Homo sapiens: one gene and its partners. The protein of the gene in region 1 purifies or fractionates together with the protein of each later gene. This does not show direct contact. Each region holds a gene or a part of one and is shown in the gene's direction. Other genes may lie near its edges.

Region 1 (5,765 bases):
TTTGCCTTTTGCAAAGAAGGTCTTGCTTTGTATAGCCTGTAAAATGCAATGTACAGTGAGGGAAAGAAAGTCTAAGGGTAGCAGTCAAATCTTCTGGCCTGAAACTGTACTTTTGGAAGGGAGAACTGTTAGACTTGCTTTATCTTCTTTATTCCAAGGCCATAAATAAGAAAATCAACGAGAGGCAAAACCATGTCTTCTTTTGCTATAGCGTTAGAATCCTGAAAGTCAGCCAGCTCTGACACTGAGTCTGTGATTTAATTAAACATGTTGAAGGCTCTCCAACAGCTTGACGTCAGGCCAGCTTCATATTCTTGGAAAGGGACAACAGCAAAAGGAGCTTATCTGTTTTAAAGTTCACTTACTGAGTTCAGCTGTCACGGCCACAGCATACCATTTGCCTTATAAAAATGGCCCACAACCTTCACAATATTTTAGGATTCATGGCAACTCATTTACCTAGGGCTTAGCCACCTGATAGCTTTACCTATCCCTATTTCCTGAACACAAAATCTAAACCAGTGGTTTGACAATGAGTAACTGAGACAGAACTAGAAAAATCTAGAACCTCTGCTGAACCCATCAAAAGTGACTGAGAATTAAGAAGTAAGCAAACAAGGCTTCCAACCAATTGAAATAAATACCATGAAGCAAACGCATAAGACAAAGGCCATACATCTAGTCATCAGGCACCTCCTCAGAACCTATTTGCTCTTCCTTCACACATATTTCTAACTGTAAAGGAAAGAAACAGACTTTTAGAGGAAACAAGAAGGAAAAAGGAGGACAGCAATAGAGAAAATGGAAATTTTGAGTAGACTGCAAAGCTCCAAAGCCCTGATATATGGGTTATTTAGTGTCAAAAACAGTCTATACACATCTCAATCTTTAAGAGCCTCACTGTATCATGGGACAATATTCTATTTAAAATGATGACCCTGTGCACCATACATAAAAAAACTATGCTTAGAAGACAAAAATATGTATATCAAACATTTTAGAAATATTTACATCCCAATGGTTAAAAAAAAAAACTTTTAGGAATTAAAAGGAATAAACCTTTGACCATCCAGAATATTTAGCTAAATCAAACAGTGTATATCCCCCTAGCTGACTTTTATTGTTTCATGAGCCTCTGGTGTTCAGAGAGTTTTTTTCACAGCTTTGTAAGTGACTTTCATGCTACAGTGCTTTGCATATAATGGCATGAACAGTGGAGGTGCCAACTTTCCAATGTGATGAATAAAACTAATAACTAGAATACAGATCAAATTCTGTTACAACAAATACTGCTACCATAAAAGTCACTTAAGCATCCCTGTTAGTTCTAAGCCCCTGTCGATTGCCCATTTATTTTAGGCAATAGTCATTCAACAAAATTGGAGCATAATAAAAAGAAACTGGACCTCAGCGCAAGTTGAGTGTTACACAATTTAACCTGTAATAACAGGTTCTCACTTGTATTTCTCCAGCTCTTTGCTGTAAGAAGAATAAACGTTATGTAGATATAATACCAGCGTGACAGCTTGTGGTTGGTGGTTTCTAGAAGAAATAATTCAGAAGCAAAAGACACATGAAGTTATGTGGCAGTTCCTCACTAGGGAATTTGGTCTCCAGGGCCACTTTTGACCTTAATCCATGTTGGAGCCATCAATCAAAGAATTGCTTGCATCTAATAATGGTGTAATGCCAATACTAAGCCCTGGAACGAAGATAGGATTCATTTCTCATGGATTATTGAGCACTCTGGGGTAACCTGGCCCTGATCTGATGACGCTAAGATTTAAAAACCCAGATGCATGTGACTAGAACTATCTTTTCTCCCATGATGCACTGCTTTCAACACTGCATGACTGTAAAAACATGTGCCACGCTGATTATATATAGAGATGGTCTAAATCAGCTGCATCCCATTTGGTACCCAGGCAAGGATTTTTCCATACCTATCTTTTTGCTGGTGGTAATGATGAGTTTTGTCACTTGCTATAACATTCTCTGTCCGTCTTTTTTCTTTTATGTAAATACTTTTGTGACTTCATTGTAACCAGCATTTTGTAATACTCTTAACAGCAGAGGGGATTAAATCATGATTCACTTCTGAACAGTACAATCAGCAGTAGGAAAACGAGGAGGGAGGGAGAGGGAAATTGTCCACCACTTCCCAATGATAATGCCTGGCTCGGACCCCAGATTCACATCATACTTGAAGTTCATAAATTCTGGGCACTGCTCAGCTTGAGGAGGCAGGCATTGCTCCTTCATATTTCAGGGTGAGACAAATGCTCTGTTGAAGCCATGCCACTACAGGATACATTCACCTCTGCTTGCTTTCCTCCCTAAGCCAGAGTGTAGTTAAACATTTATATGTCCCAGGCCAGGAGATCAAATTAAGAGGAGGTTAGCTACTTTCCCTGGCTCTTAAAAACATTTGAGTCCAAGTATGGTTCTCTGGCTTGAGGGTGGCCATTTGTTGCCTCACTGTTTTTATTAGGACATCTGGAGATTAGAGGTGTTAATTGGAAGTAACTTTTCTATATTTGGTTTCTCTCCACACATTATGAGACCTTTTAGACCCAGTTGGATGGCTGTATCCTAGTATGAAATTCAGCTTCTAAGTAGGAAGAACTATGATAGAGGAACAAGATTGCTCTTTGACTTGGTGATAGTAGGGCAATAGGGAGTGTCAGTAGGGTAGTTTCAGGTGGGGAGGATGACAAACCACTGATAACAATAAAAATGGGTATTTCTCAACACTCAAGCCAATTTCCCATTTGATAACAAGTAGGTTCTGATCTATTTTCCCCAAATTAATATTTTCCCTGGAAGATTCTGACCTGTCTGATCAAATAAAGGCATTCCTCTGAGAGTATACCTAGCCCACTTGTGGCCAAATTATACTTGACTGTTATGTACTCAAAACAAGCTTTCCTGTTAATCTCTTTCTCTTACCTCTATTATGAGGACAAGACGTGGAAGAATTAGGTCACCGGGGCATCTGCCATTGCATATGTTTAAGTGGTATAAAGAAGCCAGGATTCCTAGAATGGTCTGTCTTTTGCCATTTCTGGGACAATGAGAAAATCCATCTGGAGTGTTTATGCCCCTCTGAATAGCCAAGTCATGGGCTTGTTTGCTTTCAGTCACTGCCTTCAGAAAAAGACAATTTTACAATGACTTACTTCTAATAATCACTGAAACAGCCTCATGAGGACATGCAAAACTGCTGTCTATCTTCAGACCTGGCCCATTGTCAAATGGCAGACTTGCAGAGCAAATAAGGGACCTGGCCTAGTTCACAAGGCAGTCAGAAGTGATCCAAAGTTCAGGCTCCCCCTCCCTTTTATCACTCCACCCTGCCTCTACTCCTCCGCCTCCTATTCTTCCGGCCTTTCCATCTGGAAACCATGAGCCTCATGGATTCCAGGCACAAATTCTCAGATTTCAGATGTTTGGGAAATTTCTCAGCTTGGGTCATTCTTCAAGAGTAAGAAATTGAATTTGTGAGAAAAAAAAACAGCTGAGACTGTTTCACAGAAGAGAAAATAAATAAGGTGTGGTGCGTATCCATCCTCTTCCCAACTCAGCTCCAAAACCACACACAATGTCTAACTTCAAAAAGAGTATTTAGATCCCCCCTGGGAAGGAACAGAATGGAAAAACAATCTCCACTCATAAAAACACTTTTCTGCCTTCTACAGTATAAACACAACTGGCATCAGATAATACAATGTAATTGATTTTATGTGTGTAATTGGGGAACAGAAGGGTCTCTAGAGGGTAGACCTAAGAGTAATGGAATGGAGTGAAAAGTAAAATTTAGACTAAATTGTTGGGAGGAAACTGTTAACATTGTGAACCACTTGACCCTAGTGTTGCATCTTCACAAAAAAGAGCAATGTGCCGTCTTCTGTCTTTGGAAAATGGGACAAGCTTGCTCCTGATACTAGGTTTTAGAAGCATACAGACTTGGTTTTAGTACTGGCTTTGTTCTTTACTAACTCTGAACAATTAAATGAGCAGATGGTCTACAGGGCTTAGTACAGTGCCTGACACATAGTAAGCACTTAGAAATGGTAGCTTCTGACTGTTGTGCTGGAGTCCTGTTAGAGATTCAGTAGATGGAGCCACCTTCATGTTGCCCCTCACTGAGCTGCTCTGCTCACCTCTAGATGCTCCCCATGGCTGTTTCATAGCCCTCTGTACCACATCCCCATGTACTTTTTCATATCAACGGTAAGTACCTCAAATTACCGTATGTATTTACTTGTTCATAAGGTTGATGTCTGTAACTCTTTGAAGGTTGTATTAGTCGTTTGCTCCTATATTACTAATGATGACAAAGTCGCCTGACAGAGTAGATGTTCAAATTTATGGACTTAAACTGACTGACATCTTGATAATGCCCATATCCAGAGGTACTCCAGATATTATATCTTCATGCAGAAAACTGAAAGATACCTTTAGCTACATCTACCCCAGAATGAGTGTCCAAAGCAGGTGGCACCACCAAAAGGCACCTTCTTTTCCCATGAAAAGAGGGAAGAGAGTTGAGAAGCCTCACTCCCATCCCTGCTCTGCCACTGACAAGTTGTGTGGCATTTGGCACATCATGTTCTCTCTCTACATGCGCCTAAAATGACGGGTAGGGTCAGAGACATTGGAGGATCTCTCTTTTCTCTTCCACCTCTAACACGGTAAGATCTTAGCAAAGTAAAAAGGACAGTGATAACAGAAAAATTGTTCCTCTAAGAGTCCCAAGTCATCTTTTTTCTCTCCGTGTGTGTTAGCATTTGTGTGTGTCTGTGGGTGTGTATGCATGTGTGTGGAAGCTATACAAGGAAAGCTGAATCCATATGTAGACTTCATGGAGACTAGTACTGCTCCAAATGTGCACAAGCCATGTGATATGGTTTGCCTCTGTGTCCCCACCCAAATCTCATGTTGAAATGTAATCCCCAATGCTGGAGGTGGGACCTGGTGGGAAGATTGGATCATGGGGGAGTTTTCTCATGATTTAACAACATCCGCCCTTTGTTGTCATGATAGTGAGTTCTTGTGAGATCTGGTTGTTTAAAAATATGTGACACCTCCCCCCACCTTCCTTCTGCTCTGGCCATGTAAAGTGCTCACTCCCCCTTTGCCTTCCACCATGATTGTAAGTTTCCTGAAGCCTCCCTAGAAGCTGAGCAGATGCCAGCATCATGCTTGCTGTGCAGCCTGCAGAACTGTGAGCCAATTAAACCTCTTTATGAATTATGCAGTCTCAGGTGTTTCTTTATAGCAGTGAAAGAACGGACTAATACACCACGAAAAAAAAAAATGTACCACAGTCAAATAAACTGGGAAGCAAAACAGTGGGCCAAACAAAGTTAAATAGGTTTCTTCCCTGTAGAATTTCTGGGAGCTTTTAATATGTTCACGTGCATTGTAGAGCTTTCATGTAACAATTTTCTAGTTTTCTGGCAGTTCTGTGTAACAATTTTAGGAAACACTGATTTAGAGATGAATCTAACTCTTCCTGAGTTAACTGTTGAGAGAACAAAGGCCCAAAGAGATTCAAGGATTTGCTTAAGGTCACCTGGCTATTGGGAAAGCTGAGTTCTCCATATTTGACCACTGCATCCCAGAAGAGAATGTCTGTTTAGTGACTCAAGAGCCCACATTAGAACATTCTAGGAGACATCCCAAGGTTTCTCCCTTGATTCTAAAGGGAAGAGTTTGATAGGCTGCAATTCTCTGTCTCAGGACTTGCACAGACATTAACG
Region 2 (7,217 bases), on another chromosome or scaffold:
CCAGAAAATGACCCTTGAGATCCTTGAGAGTGATTATGTAAACATATCCTTGATTTGGTGTCTCCAGCCTAATTATCACAGTTAAAATTTTGGTATTAAAAATGGAGCAAAGATAATAAGACTTGTAAAGCAGCAGACCTTACAAAATGTTAAAAACAATTTTATTTACGTAGTGCCTCCACACAGACCTAATTATATGTATTAAACCTAATGTTTAACATTATTAGCGAGTCAGAGAATTTAGAAAAATCAGACATAATTTTAGATAAAATAAATATTAATACTAGTCATTAATATTAATCCCTGTTTGATAAAATGACTCTATATGAAAATAACTGCCCTCAAATTACTTTCATCTCACATATTTTTAATGAAAGGAAATGGTGGCTGGGGGCAGTGGCTCACACCTGTAATAACAACACTTTGGGAGGCCAAGGCCGCAGATCACTTGAGATCAGGAGTTCAAGACCAACCTGGCCAACCAGGTGAAACTCCATCTTTACTAAAAATACAAAAGTTAGCTGGTTGTGGTGGTGGGTGTAATCCTAGCTACTCGGGAGGCTAAGGCAGGAGAATCACTTGAACACAGGAGGTGGAGGGTGCAGTGAGCCAAGATCGTGCTACTGCACTTCAACCTTTGCAAGAGATCAAAACTCTGTCTCAATAAATAAATAAATAAATAAATAAATAAATAAGGAGATGGTATGGAATCATTATTAATGTTGGGCCCCTCATGTTAGCTAATATGTTTAAACCTAGGTCAAGATAGAAACTGACCCAGATTATTAGCATGTTTCAGTGCATAATATTTTAAAATAATTCAACACTGACACATAATACTATGCTATTCCACTTAGATATAAAAAAATGGCAAGAGAAGTCTCATGTTCTTGTCCCGGCATGGTGACTTACACCTGTAATCCTAGCACTTTGGGAAGCCAAGTGGGGAGGATCCCTTGAGGCCAGAAGTTTGAAACCAGACTGGGCAACATAGTGAGACCTATCTCTACAGAAAATTTAAAAACTAGATGGGCGTTGTGGCAAGCACCTGTAGTCCCAGCTACTGGGGAGGCTGAGGTGGGAGAATTGCTTTTCCCAGGAGTTCCAGGCTACAGGGAGCTATGATCACATCACTGCACCCCAGCCTCCGTAATACAGTGAGACCCTGTCTCTTAAACAAAAACAAAAAATAATCCCAGAATTCTAATGTTCTTATATGATACAGGACTTTTAAAAATTAGCCAGGCATGGTGGCCCATGCCTGTAGTCCCGGCTACTTGGAAGGCTGAGGCACGAGAATCACTTGAGCCTGGGAGGCGGAGGTGGCAGTGAGTCGAGATCACGCCACTATACTCCAGCCTGGATGGTAGAGTGAAACTCTGTCTCAAAATAAATAAATGAGTGAAAGTACACCGAAAGTTTTAACTTAACAAATTTTATTTACGCCTCACATTGATGGAGTGACAAGAACAAATAAGTAATACTAATGAAGGTATAGGATATTTTACAATTTTTTAAAAATTAGACCCTTATATACACAAAGTAATTGAATTTTTTTTTTTTTTTTTTTTTTTTTTTTTTTGAGACGGAGTCTCGCTCTGTCACCAGGCTGGAGTGCAGTGGTGCGATCTCGGCTTGCTGCAACCTTCGCCTCCTGGGTTCAAGCAATTCTCCTGCCTCAGCCTCTCGAGTAGCTGGGACTACAGGCACGCGCCACCACGCCCGGCTAATTTTTTGTATATTTAGTAGAGACGGGGTTTCACCATGTTGGCCACGATGGTTTCCATCTCTTGACCTCGTGATCCACCTGCCTGGGCCTCCCAATGTGCTGGGATTACAGGTGTGAACCACCACGCTCAGCTGCAAAGTGATTTAAATTTATCAACAATTTTAATGCAAAATTTTTGTCATTTGTGATATTTTCCAATAGCTTATCCGAATTCCTTAGAATCAGATTTCAAAATAAGATTCCCAAGTCAGATTTCTTTGAAATTACAATCCGAAAATATTTAGATTTTAGAAAGGTAATGTGGTAAATATTCTGCCTATTATGGAATAACTCTAATGGCAAATCATATGAATAATCACATGAACTGGGATCAATAAGACTATAAATACCCCTGGTCGGGTGCGGTGGCTCACACCTGTAATCCTAGCACTTGGTGAGGTTGAGGCGGGTGGATCACAAGGTCAGGAAGTCGAGACCATCCTGGCTAACACGGTGAAATTCCGTCTCTACTAAAAATACAAAAAATTAGCTGGGCGTGGTGGCAGGCACATGTAGTCCCAGCTACTCGGGAGGCTGAGGCAGGAGAATGAATGGCGTGAACCCAGGAAGTGCAGCTTGCAGTGAGCCAAGATCAAGCCACTGCACTCCAGCCTGGGCGACAGAGCGAGACTCCGTCAATTCACTAGGGATAAAAGTCAGAAGAACAGAAATTGTGAGTTCCTTTGTGAAGATCCAAGGACCTTCAAGGACCTCTGAATAGCCAAGAATAATCATTCCTGTTTTTCATCTTCAATGGATAAAAGAGCCCATTATACCTTTCTAGCCTATTCTGGAATAAGTAACAATGAAATTTTATTTAGTGTAAACTAACAAAGAAAACAGAGTAAGTTAATGAAATGTAGTCTCTACAACTTGTTAGACTGTTTATTTTTTATTTGTTTTTTATTTTTAGTTGGACTTTGTTTTTGAGACGGAATCTCGCTCTGTCACCCAGTCTGGAGGGCAAGGGCTTGATCTCGGCTCACTGCAACCTCTGCTTCTCAGGTTCTAGTGATGCTCCCTGCCTCAGTCTCCCTAGTAGCTGGGATTACAGGCGCACACCACCACGCCCAGCTATTTTTAGTAAAGACAGGGTTTCGCCATGTTGGCCAGGCTGGTCTCCAACTCCTGACCTCAGGTGATCTGCCCGCTTCAACCTCCCAAAGTGCTGGGATTACAGGCTTGAGTCACGGCACCAGGCAACATGCTAATTTTTGTATGTGTGGTAGAGACGGGGTTTCACTCCATGTTGGCCAGGCAGGTCTCCACCTCGATCTCAGGTGATCCACCGGACTCGGCCTCCCAAAATACTGGGATTACAGGCCAGAGTCACCGCGACCGGCCTGCGTCCATGTTACTTAAAGTACAAAGTAACCTACAAAGTAACCCGCCAGGCGCGGTGGCTCACGCCTGAAATCCCAGCATTTTCAGAGGCCGAGGCAGGCGAATCACCTGAGGTCGGGAGTTGCCGAGACCAGCCTGACCAACATGGAGAAACCCCGTCTCTACTAAAAAAAAAAAAAAAAAAAAAAAAAAAAAAAATTAGCCAGCATGGTGGCACATACCTGTAATCCCGGCTACTCAAGAGGCTGAGGCAGGAGAATCGCTTGAACCTGGGAGGCGGAGGTTGTTGCAGTGAGCCGAGATCGCACCATTGCACTGTAGCCTGGGCGTCAAGAGCCAAACTCCGTCTCAAGAAAAAAAGATTACATCCTGGCACGGTGGTTCATGCCTGTAGTGGCAGCAGCGGTGGCAACCCCAGAACCTGTCCGTGCCACCAGCAGCGGGGAACCCCAGGGTCGGACGCCGCCACTGCGCCTAAATCAGGCGGTGGGACCTCAGCTGTGTGAGGGCGGGAACCTGCCGCAAAGCCTCATCCTGGCAACTATACATGGCCCAGAGGTCGCGAGCCTGCGCTGCCAGCGCGGGCCAAGGAAGAGCAGAGCCCAGGGTGGAAGGGCGGTGCACTCGGCGACCCTCAGCGGTCTGGGCCCAGCCCTGCAGCCTCCACCGTGGACTCAGGTGCAGCTCCCACCTGAACATGGCACGCGGCAGCGGGGGCTCCAACCCGGACCCTGTCCGTGCCAGCAGCAGGGCGGATACTTGGGCCAGAAGCTTCCAGGGCGCCTAAGTGAGGGGGTCGGTCCCCAGCTGCAGGAGGGCGGGAATCGACGCTCAGCGCGGCCCTGGAGGCTGCACGGTGCCCAGTACCAGGGTCCAGCTCCTGGATCGCGGGTCGAGGAGGGGCCAGGGGCGGCTATGTCAAGCAGGCCGTGTTGCAGGGAGCCCCACACGTTCCGCTCCAGGGAGGCCCGCCAGCCCGGCAGCGCCTCAGCGGCCGGTGCCACCTGCACGCGGTGCCCGGTGGAGCGCGGCCAGGGCGCGTGTCTCCTCAGCCTGCTGAGCTGCGCGTGAGCTGCTGCTGTAACGCTCTAACGTTAGAGCAGCTAACGGCTCTGCTCAGAATTTCTCCCGACAGAGGCCGGAGTGTTCAAGAGCTTGGCGATACAGAAATTTCTGCTGGTGTTGGGGCGGGTGCGGGAACTGAAGACGGGCGAGTGCGAGCCGGGGGCGGGTGCTGGGGAAGGGTAAGCGGGAAGCGAGGGCGAGGGGTAGGGGCTGGGGAAGGGCGAGCGGGAGGCGCGGGCTCTCTCTAGCAGGGGGCTGCAGCCATGAAGAGGCTCTTAGCTGCCGCTGGCAAGGGCGTGCGGGGCCCGGAGCCCCCGAACCCCTTCAGCGAACGGGTCTACACTGAGAAGGACTACGGGACCATCTACTTCGGGGATCTAGGGAAGATCCATACAGCTGCCTCCCGGGGCCAAGTCCAGAAGCTGGAGAAGATGACAGTAGGGAAGAAGCCCGTCAACCTGAACAAAAGAGATATGAAGAAGAGGTACCAGGCCCTGCCTGAGCCGGGGCTGCAGGAGGAGGAGGCGGCTGTGGGAGGATCGCCCCTTCAGAGTGGTGGCTGGGGGTCCTGGGGACGAGGGGAGCAGGTGGAGGAGTGGCGGGCGATGGGGCGGCCGTCCTGGGCCCCGAGGTCTTGGCCTTCTTCCCGGTCAGGCCCCCCAGGCCTGGGATGGGGGCGCCCTGCAGGGCAGAGGGCACAGGCCACCTTAAAATCAACCCCAAGCTTTAGCTGCTTTCTCCTTCACTCCCACTTCCCCTCACAAAGCACTCTGTAGAAAATTTTAAAGTGATTAAACTCACAAAATTAAGTACATACAGGGTTTTACTTTTAATGTACAGGTTTTAAAAGATAATGTTAGATACACTATGAAATGGTGCATAATGAACTAATTCCCATAATATATGACCTTCTTGGCTAAAAATTCTTTGGATAAAGTCCAATGTCCATTTTGATATCAATGAATGTCTATGTAAATATGTTCTTTGCTGAGGGACCTTAGAAGGAAACTTCGAGGTGGGAAGATAGTTTATGTTCTTGAATTTAAGAAGACTCATTTTTCTCAAGATGCGACTTACCAGTTTTACATAAACCAAATAAAGCTATTAACGTTTTAACATTTTTTAAATTACACAGGCTTTTACTGTTGTGATGACATTTTAAATATTTTGTAATGGAGTAGAAAAGTCTTGCCCTTCTAGATATCAAAATGCGCTATTAATTTGCACAAAATGGGCCAGGAGCGGTGGCTCACGCCTGTAATCCCAGCACTTTGGGCGGCCGAGGCGGGTGGATCATCTGAGGTCAGGAGTTCAAGACCAGCCTGGCCAATATGGTGAAACACCGTCTCTACAAAAATACAAAAATTAGCTGGGCCTGATGTCGGGTGCCTGTAATCCCAGCTACTTGGGAGGCTGAGGCGGGAGAATTGCTTCAACCTGGTAGGTGGAGGTTGCAGTGAGCCGAGATCCCACCATTGCAATCCAGCCTAGGTGACAGAGTGAGACTCTGTCTCAAAAAAAAAAAAAAAAAAAAAAAAAAAAAAAATCACAGATTGTTTGCTAACAGCTGAAAAGACAGGTAAATGAATACAACAGAATAGAAAATCCAGAAACACCCAAACATATGTAAGAATTTAGAACTTGATAATGATCACAAGGATCATTATCCTTGTGGAAAAGAATTAGTTTCATAATTCTTTTAGGAATATGAATTATTAGGAAAAGAATTAGTTTCATAAGTGAAATGCCTGCTTTTTGGAGAAAACTAGATTTTTATGGCACAAAATAAGTTCCTGATGGAATATAGATTAAAAATTTTTAATATACAAAAAGATAAAAATACCAGAAAAAACATAAATGCCTATTTACACAGATACATTTTTATGTTGACAAAACCTTTCTAAGAAGCTCAGAAGCAAGCATTCTGAAGAGTAATTTAGTAAAACAAAAATTAAATCACCCTGCATATGAGAAAAAATAAAAGGCAGCATACTTGTAAAATATTTACTACTCATGTATGTGTGTGTGTGTATACATATTAGAATTAAAAATCTTCCTTTTATAGAGAATTCACTCAAATCAACAGAAAACCCTCTAATTTAAAATTGGGCAATTTAAGTTAGAGATCTAAATTGCAGATCTAAAAAAGTACTTGGCCTCTAATTTAAAACTGGGCAAAGTCCTTTTTTAAGATCTGCAAGTAACCTATGCACACAGGAAACAATATTAGTGTTCCTGGTTAGAGAAGGCATTTAAGTTAAAAGAGGAATCAAATACTGTTTTCTATCCACAAAGTTTGTGAGGATAAAAAGCAGTGATATTTATAGTACTCCTTAAAGTGTAAGTTGCAGATGAGTTTTCAAATAAACAATTTGATGGTAAGTACCATATTTAAAAAATTGTATATGCCCATTAGTGATCCATTCTATTATACTAAAATATTTTTAGAAAATAATGCAACATACACACAATTTCTTTTCTGAGCACTGCTTAAAATATCAATGTATTAAAAAGAATCCATTTAATGGCTTTTATAAATACATTTCAGTGAGTTTACAGCATGGGATAATATGTGACCACTCAAGGTAGAAACATATACGGAAGTATGTTGACATTTGAAAATGTATTTTGGTGTACCAAGTGAGGGTAAAATTCAGTTTGATTATACATACAGACTATGGTCTTGTGTTATCTGAAATTATGTCCAAAATTTGATAACATTTGCTATTTGAGGATACTTGTTTTAATATAAAATGTTTTTCCTTTTTTTATCTTTGATTTCTGCATTGAGCATGTACGATGCTATTAGTAAAAGTTTATTATTAATGAAATAATTTTTGGGAGGAGCAGCAATATGTATTTTGCACAGATGAAAATAATTTCTCACTTTCTATATTTTATTTTTTTGTGCATTTGTATATTCTGTGAACTTTTAGCATCTTCAGAAGAGAATATTTTTATCTCTGCTTATTGATTTACATATACATTTTATTAAACACATTTTTATTATATATAGGCTTATTACATATATGTCAATAAC
Region 3 (6,974 bases), on another chromosome or scaffold:
TTCCTTTAAGTATCGGATTTTAACTGTTACTCTTTGGGTTTTGACCAATTCTCTTGATGCTCTACTGGTCCCCTTTCTCCACCTTTGCCTCCCTTGGAATTCATCTTCAATTTAACATTGTAACTGAATGAAAAAAATGATGTTATAGATAATCGTATAACCAGTTTCCTAATGGGGTATACATGCATACATAGCTATAGGCTTTCATCACTTAAATTCTCAGTTATATGAAGGCTTTCATTTTACATTTATTGTCTTGCCCAATTTCCTTTTATTGTTTACCTAAAAGTGAACCTTAGAGGTCTCCTGGGAGGTTGTGATTAGCCGCCACATTCAAGGTTGTAACTTCAGTTGGCTGAGGGTTTCAAATAATTCCATTTATTACCTTGGGATTTACTTGAATGCCTGATCTGAAAACCAGTCCCTTCAAATAGTTCTGGATATTTTGCAGTGCTGCATAAGCATGCCAATATATGTATTTTTAATTTTTAGTTAAAATGGTACCTGCATTTTACTGACAGTGTCAAAGTAGAATATTTTGCCTAAAATCACAGATGAGCACCCTCCCCTCCAAACTGAGTATGAATTAAGATAAAATGTAAATTGTTAATTAAGTCATGGAAGTTTACAGCATTTCAGTGTATGGGAAACTACACTTAGGCCCCAAATCATTCCACTGGAATTAGAACTTCTTCTGATGAGATATGGTACCTGCTTATACTAATTTTGTCGTTATTTGTTGCGGTGGTTGGCTCCTGTCTTGTATTAATTCACAAACCTTGAGTATTTTCTTAGTTTTAATGCAGTGCCTCTCTCCATAGAGAGTCATCTCCCAAGGGTACTCTGTTTACTGCCACCTTTTTATGATTTTATATTGCATCAAGCAATTCCAAACTTACAGGGTGTTGATGTGAAAGGCTTCCTCTGGTCTTGTAGAAACCTAGCCCTGTTTAGAAGTATGTTTGGCTTATGGAAGACATTAAAATCAGAAAGGGACAAAAACAAACCCTCTGTGTAAAATTGATTGTCTCAATCTCAAAGCACTGATAGTAATAGTAGAAATAGTAGTGATAAAAAATAGAATAATCAAAAAGTCAAGAAAAAAGGAGACAAAACCTGCTCTCTTAGATCTAAACGACTAAATGTTTAAATTGCATGTGTTACTTAAGAACGCTACCAAGTTTATCTAGAAGACTGCAATGAGAAGGAATTCAAATAATGAAACCGAGGGTCTTTTGCGTGTTGAAAACTTCCAAAGAACTTTAACCTTTCAATGATCAATGGCCAATTTGAGTCTCTAGTATTTCTGCTAGAAATAGAACCGTAATCTTTAGTAATAATTAAAATATTACTGTAAACCTGATACATCTCATTAAACACATGACTTTTAATTTGTGCCTTTTCTAAAGTTGTCAAAGTATGTCTGTTCTTCAATTTCACAATTACTGATTACAGCATGAATGAATAATCTGCCTTTCTTTTTTTATATTTCAGATTTCTTAAATTTGAAACATCAAAATATCTGTGCAATGTTTTATTGCTGAAAACCCCAAATTGCTCTGCAAATAAAAAGGCCTTGATAATGTGGGCACAGCTACATACAAGGGGTAGCTTGGCCTTAGGATTTTTAACGTAATTAGAGCCATTTGAAAATAAAACATCCTTTACAGCCAAACTTATTCACCTGGAAATTTCAATCACAATAAGTTATCAGAGGCAAGCTATTTCAACAGATAGTTTAACAGCCATTTCAGTCAAAACACCTGTTGAATACAATTTGGGATTTCTCTTTTTAAAAACTGGTAAATACAAACATTTCTGTCAGTGCTGTTTTATTCTTTTTTGATACTTCTACTTTTGGTTGAGGCGTTTTCTGCCTTTGCTATTTCTTCTCAATTGTCCTTTTTTTGCCCCTTATTACTTTCTTCCCACAACAGTATCGATGTAGCAAAAACATTTTGATGCCTTTTAAAAATGTCTCGTGGCTGCCTATATCCCAATCTATTATGTTAGAGTCATATCACTGCATTTTGAAAGCAATGATCATCACAACTTCTTAGCATTTTAACCCTGTACAATTTGAAATTGAAACAGTATGAAGAGATTCAAAGGGCAGTTCTTAAACCTGGTTGATGAAATGAGAAAAGAAGAAAATATGTTGTAGAAAGAGGCAGAAAAATCCAATTTAGGGTATCTGTAACTAAATAAGGGAGCAAAAAGAACCCACACATTTCTCGTTGATCCTGCTAAGTACAACTAGGGCTGAATAAAATTCAGTAAGTTTCCAACATTATTTATATTTTAGAAGAATATCAGAGAAGTTACCATAAGCCATGTAGTTGGTAACGTTTTGTAAAGAAACGAAACCTGGATTTCACTTTATGAATAACTAACAGCCTCCAGAGAAGAGGAGCACAGGAAAGGAAATATCTTGGTTTTAGAGAATGAATAGCTTGACAAGGAGTCTTAAAACAACTTTGCTAGGCCAGGAGCGGTGGCTCACGCCTGTAATCCCAGAACTTTGGGAGGCCGAGGAGGGCGGATCACGAGGTCAGGAGTTCGAGACCAGCCTGGCCAATATGGTGAAACCCTGTCTCTACAAAAAAAAAAAAAAGTATGTATATGTGTGTATATATATGTATATATATGTATATGTGTGTATATATATATGTATATGTATACATAAATTAGCCAGGCATGGTGGCGCGCACCTGTTGTCCCAGTTACTCGGCCGAGGCAGGAGAATCGCTTGATCCCCGGAGGCGGAGGCTGCAGTGAGCCGAGACTGTGCCACTGCACTCTAGTCTGGGCGACAGAGTGAGAATCTGTCTCAAAACAAACAAAAACAACTTTGCTAAGGCGATCTAACCACCATATGCTGTGTGGAAAAGACCATTCCTTTTCCCTGGAATGTACCCTGCTTAGACATTTTGTTCTATAAGCTCTTAGTACGTTTGGGACGCTTGATGAGTGGGGGAAGTGGAATCTTGTTTAGGACTGGAGCTCCAATCACTGGACCTTCAAAGCCAATGGAAGAGGAAGGAAAATGCACGTTCAAGAATGCAAACCCTCGCCCTTTCCTCATATTCCGTGATGACTGTTTTGAGTCCTAAACAAACATTTCCTATCAATTTTAGCGGGGAGTAGGGCCAGGGCAATCTCGACACTAAGGGACGGGGACACAGACAAGTCTCTTCCAGGACAGTGGCGGAAGTGCCATAAAATGAGGTGTCCATCTGCCACCCACAGAGCAAGTCTCTCTGTTTCCCAAAGTGTTCACAGGCTCACTACGCTTCCTGAATGTCAGTGCGAGTTAGCAACCAGAACTCTGATCTGAGTATGATCTCGGACGCTTGTTCCTCTGCGCGCTGGGTAGGGGAAAATTTACACCAAGCGCACTTAGGTGGGCTAAAGGGCTGAGCTGTTTACTTCTGAACTCGCTAGCGTCTTTCTCCCGGAAGCTAGGCGAAGCCATCTATTAGCCCCCGCAGAGTTTGGGAGAGATGCGCAAGTGGAATTGGAGCTGCCACCTCACTTTCCACGATCTAACCCGGTGTAAGGTGGCGGAAGGGGCATGGGGAGGCACGTTCAGGAGTCGCGCTTTGCGTTTCCACCCCGACACCAGCGGAGCGCGGAGCGGATGGGTTCACAGCATAGGCCACTTTGAGAACTCTGCGTGACATCTGGGAGTTCTCTCGTCTGGCAGAGAGGCAAGAAGCAGAGGCACCACACCGCCCCCTTCTCGGACTGGATCTCTGTTCTTGGTCGAGCCTGGACCCACTCAGGTAGTCGGACGCCGGCCAGGGAGTCTCCACCTCCTCACCAGCGGCAGCCATTCGGAGCGCTCGGGCGCAGAAGGGCTGGGGCCCATTGGCTGTGGGACGCTGCCAGTCTCCGGAGGGGGTGTGGTGGGGGTGGGGTCTGGGGCCGCAGCGGGTCGGGGCTGCTCACTGTTTGTTGAGCTTGAGCGTGAGCCGGCTGCTGAAGACTTGCGAACAGTTCGGAGCCAGCGAGAGCGCGCCAGAGAGAGCGAGAGTGAGGGAGTGAGTGCGAGGGGATCTAGAGGAGTCAGGGCGAGAAAGCGAGGGCCGGAGGACCCACGATAGAGACAGAGTGACCATGGCTGTCTCCGCATCTCCAGTGATCTCTGCAACTTCCAGCGGCGCCGGCGTCCCGGGGGGCTTATTCCGGGCCGAACCCCTGTACTCGACTCCCAGAGAGCCCCCTCGTCTTACTCCTAATATGATCAATAGTTTCGTGGTTAATAACCACAGCAACAGTGCCGGAGGCGGCGGCAGGGGCAACACCAACACCAACGAGTGCCGCATGGTCGACATGCACGGGATGAAGGTGGCTTCGTTCCTGATGGACGGCCAGGAACTGATCTGCCTGCCGCAAGTCTTTGATCTTTTTCTCAAGCACCTGGTGGGAGGCTTGCACACTGTGTACACCAAGCTGAAGAGACTGGATATATCCCCCGTGGTGTGTACTGTTGAGCAGGTCCGGATCCTCCGCGGGCTGGGGGCCATCCAGCCCGGGGTAAACCGCTGCAAACTCATCACCAGGAAAGACTTCGAAACTTTGTTCACCGATTGCACCAATGCCAGGTGAGACACTCGTTTCTTGGCTCTCCCACTTCTCTTACCCCTTTGGCCTCTTCTGCATGCCTCACCACCCTCATCCAACTTTGTTTGTAGAGTGAGTCTTAACTAGTTTGCCTCTATTCTTCACGCTGTAAATCGGTGGGGAAAGAGGACTAGAAGCTTTCATTAATGCTGGTGCCTTCTAGTCCACGCTCAGTGCAAGGGCTTCGGTCTAAAAAAGTCCCGCAAACTTGAGTTTGCAGTCCTCTATTGAAACTTTCCAGCCTTTTGCCCATATCTTGCATGGCTTTTGGCTGTTCGTGGTTATTTGTTAATTTCTCTATTTGGTTTTCTTTCCTGCTCTTTTGTGGCCGCACGGGTCGGATAGGTTTTCTTCTGAACACGGATACCAAGGGCTTTCTCTGGGGGCTGGCTGAGCTGTAAACTGGGCTCCTAAGCTGGCAAGCCAGAACACAGCATTTGGGGCATGCAGGGGGTGGGAAGTCTAGAATCCATCCCAGAGGGTGATTCGATCCCCATCCCGTGTGTTTGTTGTGAGAATGTGTGGGGTGTGTGGTGTTGTTGTTTGTGGTGGTGTTGGTGTGTATGTGTGCAAGTGCGCGTGAGAACGTATGCTCATGCTTGCTGCGCAAAGCTCCCCAGTACACGATACAGGAAAGTCGATGGATACTATTTTTACAAAAGGACGACGACAAATATCACTTTCCTGGGATCGTCCGTTTTGGGTTATCTGCAGAGGGCAATGTGGGGCATGAACCACTGTGGCTGGGACTGGATTGGAGGTTGGTGTACAAGTTGGCAGATTTCTAGAGAGGATGCTCTCAGCTCTTCCAGGCGAACAGTTGGAAGGATCCCATTCCCTTAAAGACAGGATTCCTTAAATGATGATGGCCAGCTTCCCTGGTTGTAAGTGTACCTCCTTCATATCACAGTTTAGAAGTACACTAGTGAATAAATGTCCATTTGTATATGAGAAGCAAATTGTGTTCAATGTTTCTGAGTTTAAAAAGAAAAAAAGTATACTCAAGATTATCTGACTTTTTAAACGCCTGTGAATTAGTCTTCTAGTGTTTATTCCATCTCCAGTTTGGTAACATCTCAGGAAAGCACAGATTTGGCACAAAAATCACCATCACGTGGTTAAAAGGAGCAAAGGATTTTGTTGTAAAACAGCACTACTGCTTATTATTTTGCAAAAATAAAATAAAAAACCAACAACTTTCTCAAAATGAACTTTAAATCATAAAATCTCTGGGTCTGTGAACTAAAACTGTAACAGTTTGCCACATCTGTTGTAAAATCCAAATTGCCATGTATAGTTGAATGATACTGACAACTTGTAGGCAAACTGTTGCTTACTGCTGCAATAAGATAATGCTGCAGAACTTACAAGGGAAGCTTTTTCCTTCTTCTTTTTTTTCTTCAATTGAGCAGTGTTTTTCTGTGTTCAAGCAATTAAACAGAAAACTATTTATGTGAGAACTCCTACCTGATTCATATTTAGGGCTTACAAAGCTGGTTTATTATATCAGCTTTTCTTAAGGAAGATAGATGGCCTGAAAACACAAAGGATAACAGCTCCCTCAATAAAACAGGCAATTATGGATTGTAAGAGTAAAAAGACAATTTTATTTCGACTACAAAGCATTTTATTAGTACACAAACTAAAAAGGTTACAAGGGACTTCAGATAGTGGCCATCTAATTCATTTGTTGCCATCCAAAAACACTCAAACATTTAAATAATTGCAGACATGAAAACCTATTCTCTTATTAACTCTCTCTCTTTATCAGTCTCTCATCTCTCCATCCCTGTTCTTTCTCTCTTCCCCCTCTCCCATCTCTAAAAATGCCCATTCTTAAAGTGGAACAATTATTACACTTAGGAAATTCTTCCTTCCTCAATTAATTTGCACATTCTTGAGAAAAACCTATGACCATGATTTTCAAATAAATAGATTAGTATTTTAATATGATTTTGATACTTTTCTCTATAAATGGAAACTTTTCCTAATTTTTATTAGAGCTACTTACTAAAAAAAAAAATCCAGAGGCAGGTGATCTTGTAATATTTTTGGACCCTGTTATACCATGTATTTTTAGGTTATTATTTTATCTAATTAGCTTTTATTTACTGCTTATCACAGCAATAGTAACTTTTCATGTGTGTGAATTGCTTTTGTGTATGTGTGTGTATAAAGGTGATAGAGAAATATTAAATATGTAGGAAGAAATAGATCTGTGATGTGATTCATGTGGCTTCTATTGCATTTTCTTTTCTTTACGGGTATTTGGTTTATTATATTCATATTTTAAAACTGTGTTACAAGTATTGCAATTTTATTAATTGTAAAAATTTATGAAGTATATT

The links. The genes of interacting proteins can lie anywhere in the genome.
Region 2: the proteins of TRIM44 (region 1) and ANKRD30B purify together in Homo sapiens (affinity purification with mass spectrometry, with the first as the bait; 2 studies listed by BioGRID). This does not show direct contact.
Region 3: the proteins of TRIM44 (region 1) and DACH2 purify together in Homo sapiens (affinity purification with mass spectrometry; 2 studies listed by BioGRID and IntAct, with this or other methods). This does not show direct contact.

What each region holds. Positions count from the first base shown.
Region 1 is NC_000011.10:35,812,752-35,818,516, forward strand, and holds the end of TRIM44 (tripartite motif-containing protein 44), read left to right. Parts: 3' UTR 1-5,256; downstream 5,257-5,765. UniProt on the Homo sapiens protein: May play a role in the process of differentiation and maturation of neuronal cells. May regulate the activity of TRIM17. Is a negative regulator of PAX6 expression.
Region 2 is NC_000018.10:14,743,980-14,751,196, forward strand, and holds the start of ANKRD30B (ankyrin repeat domain-containing protein 30B), read left to right. Parts: upstream 1-4,192; 5' UTR 4,193-4,440; coding exon 4,441-4,661; intron 4,662-7,217.
Region 3 is NC_000023.11:86,144,502-86,151,475, forward strand, and holds the start of DACH2 (dachshund homolog 2), read left to right. Parts: upstream 1-3,949; 5' UTR 3,950-4,119; coding exon 4,120-4,607; intron 4,608-6,974. UniProt on the Homo sapiens protein: Transcription factor that is involved in regulation of organogenesis. Seems to be a regulator for SIX1 and SIX6.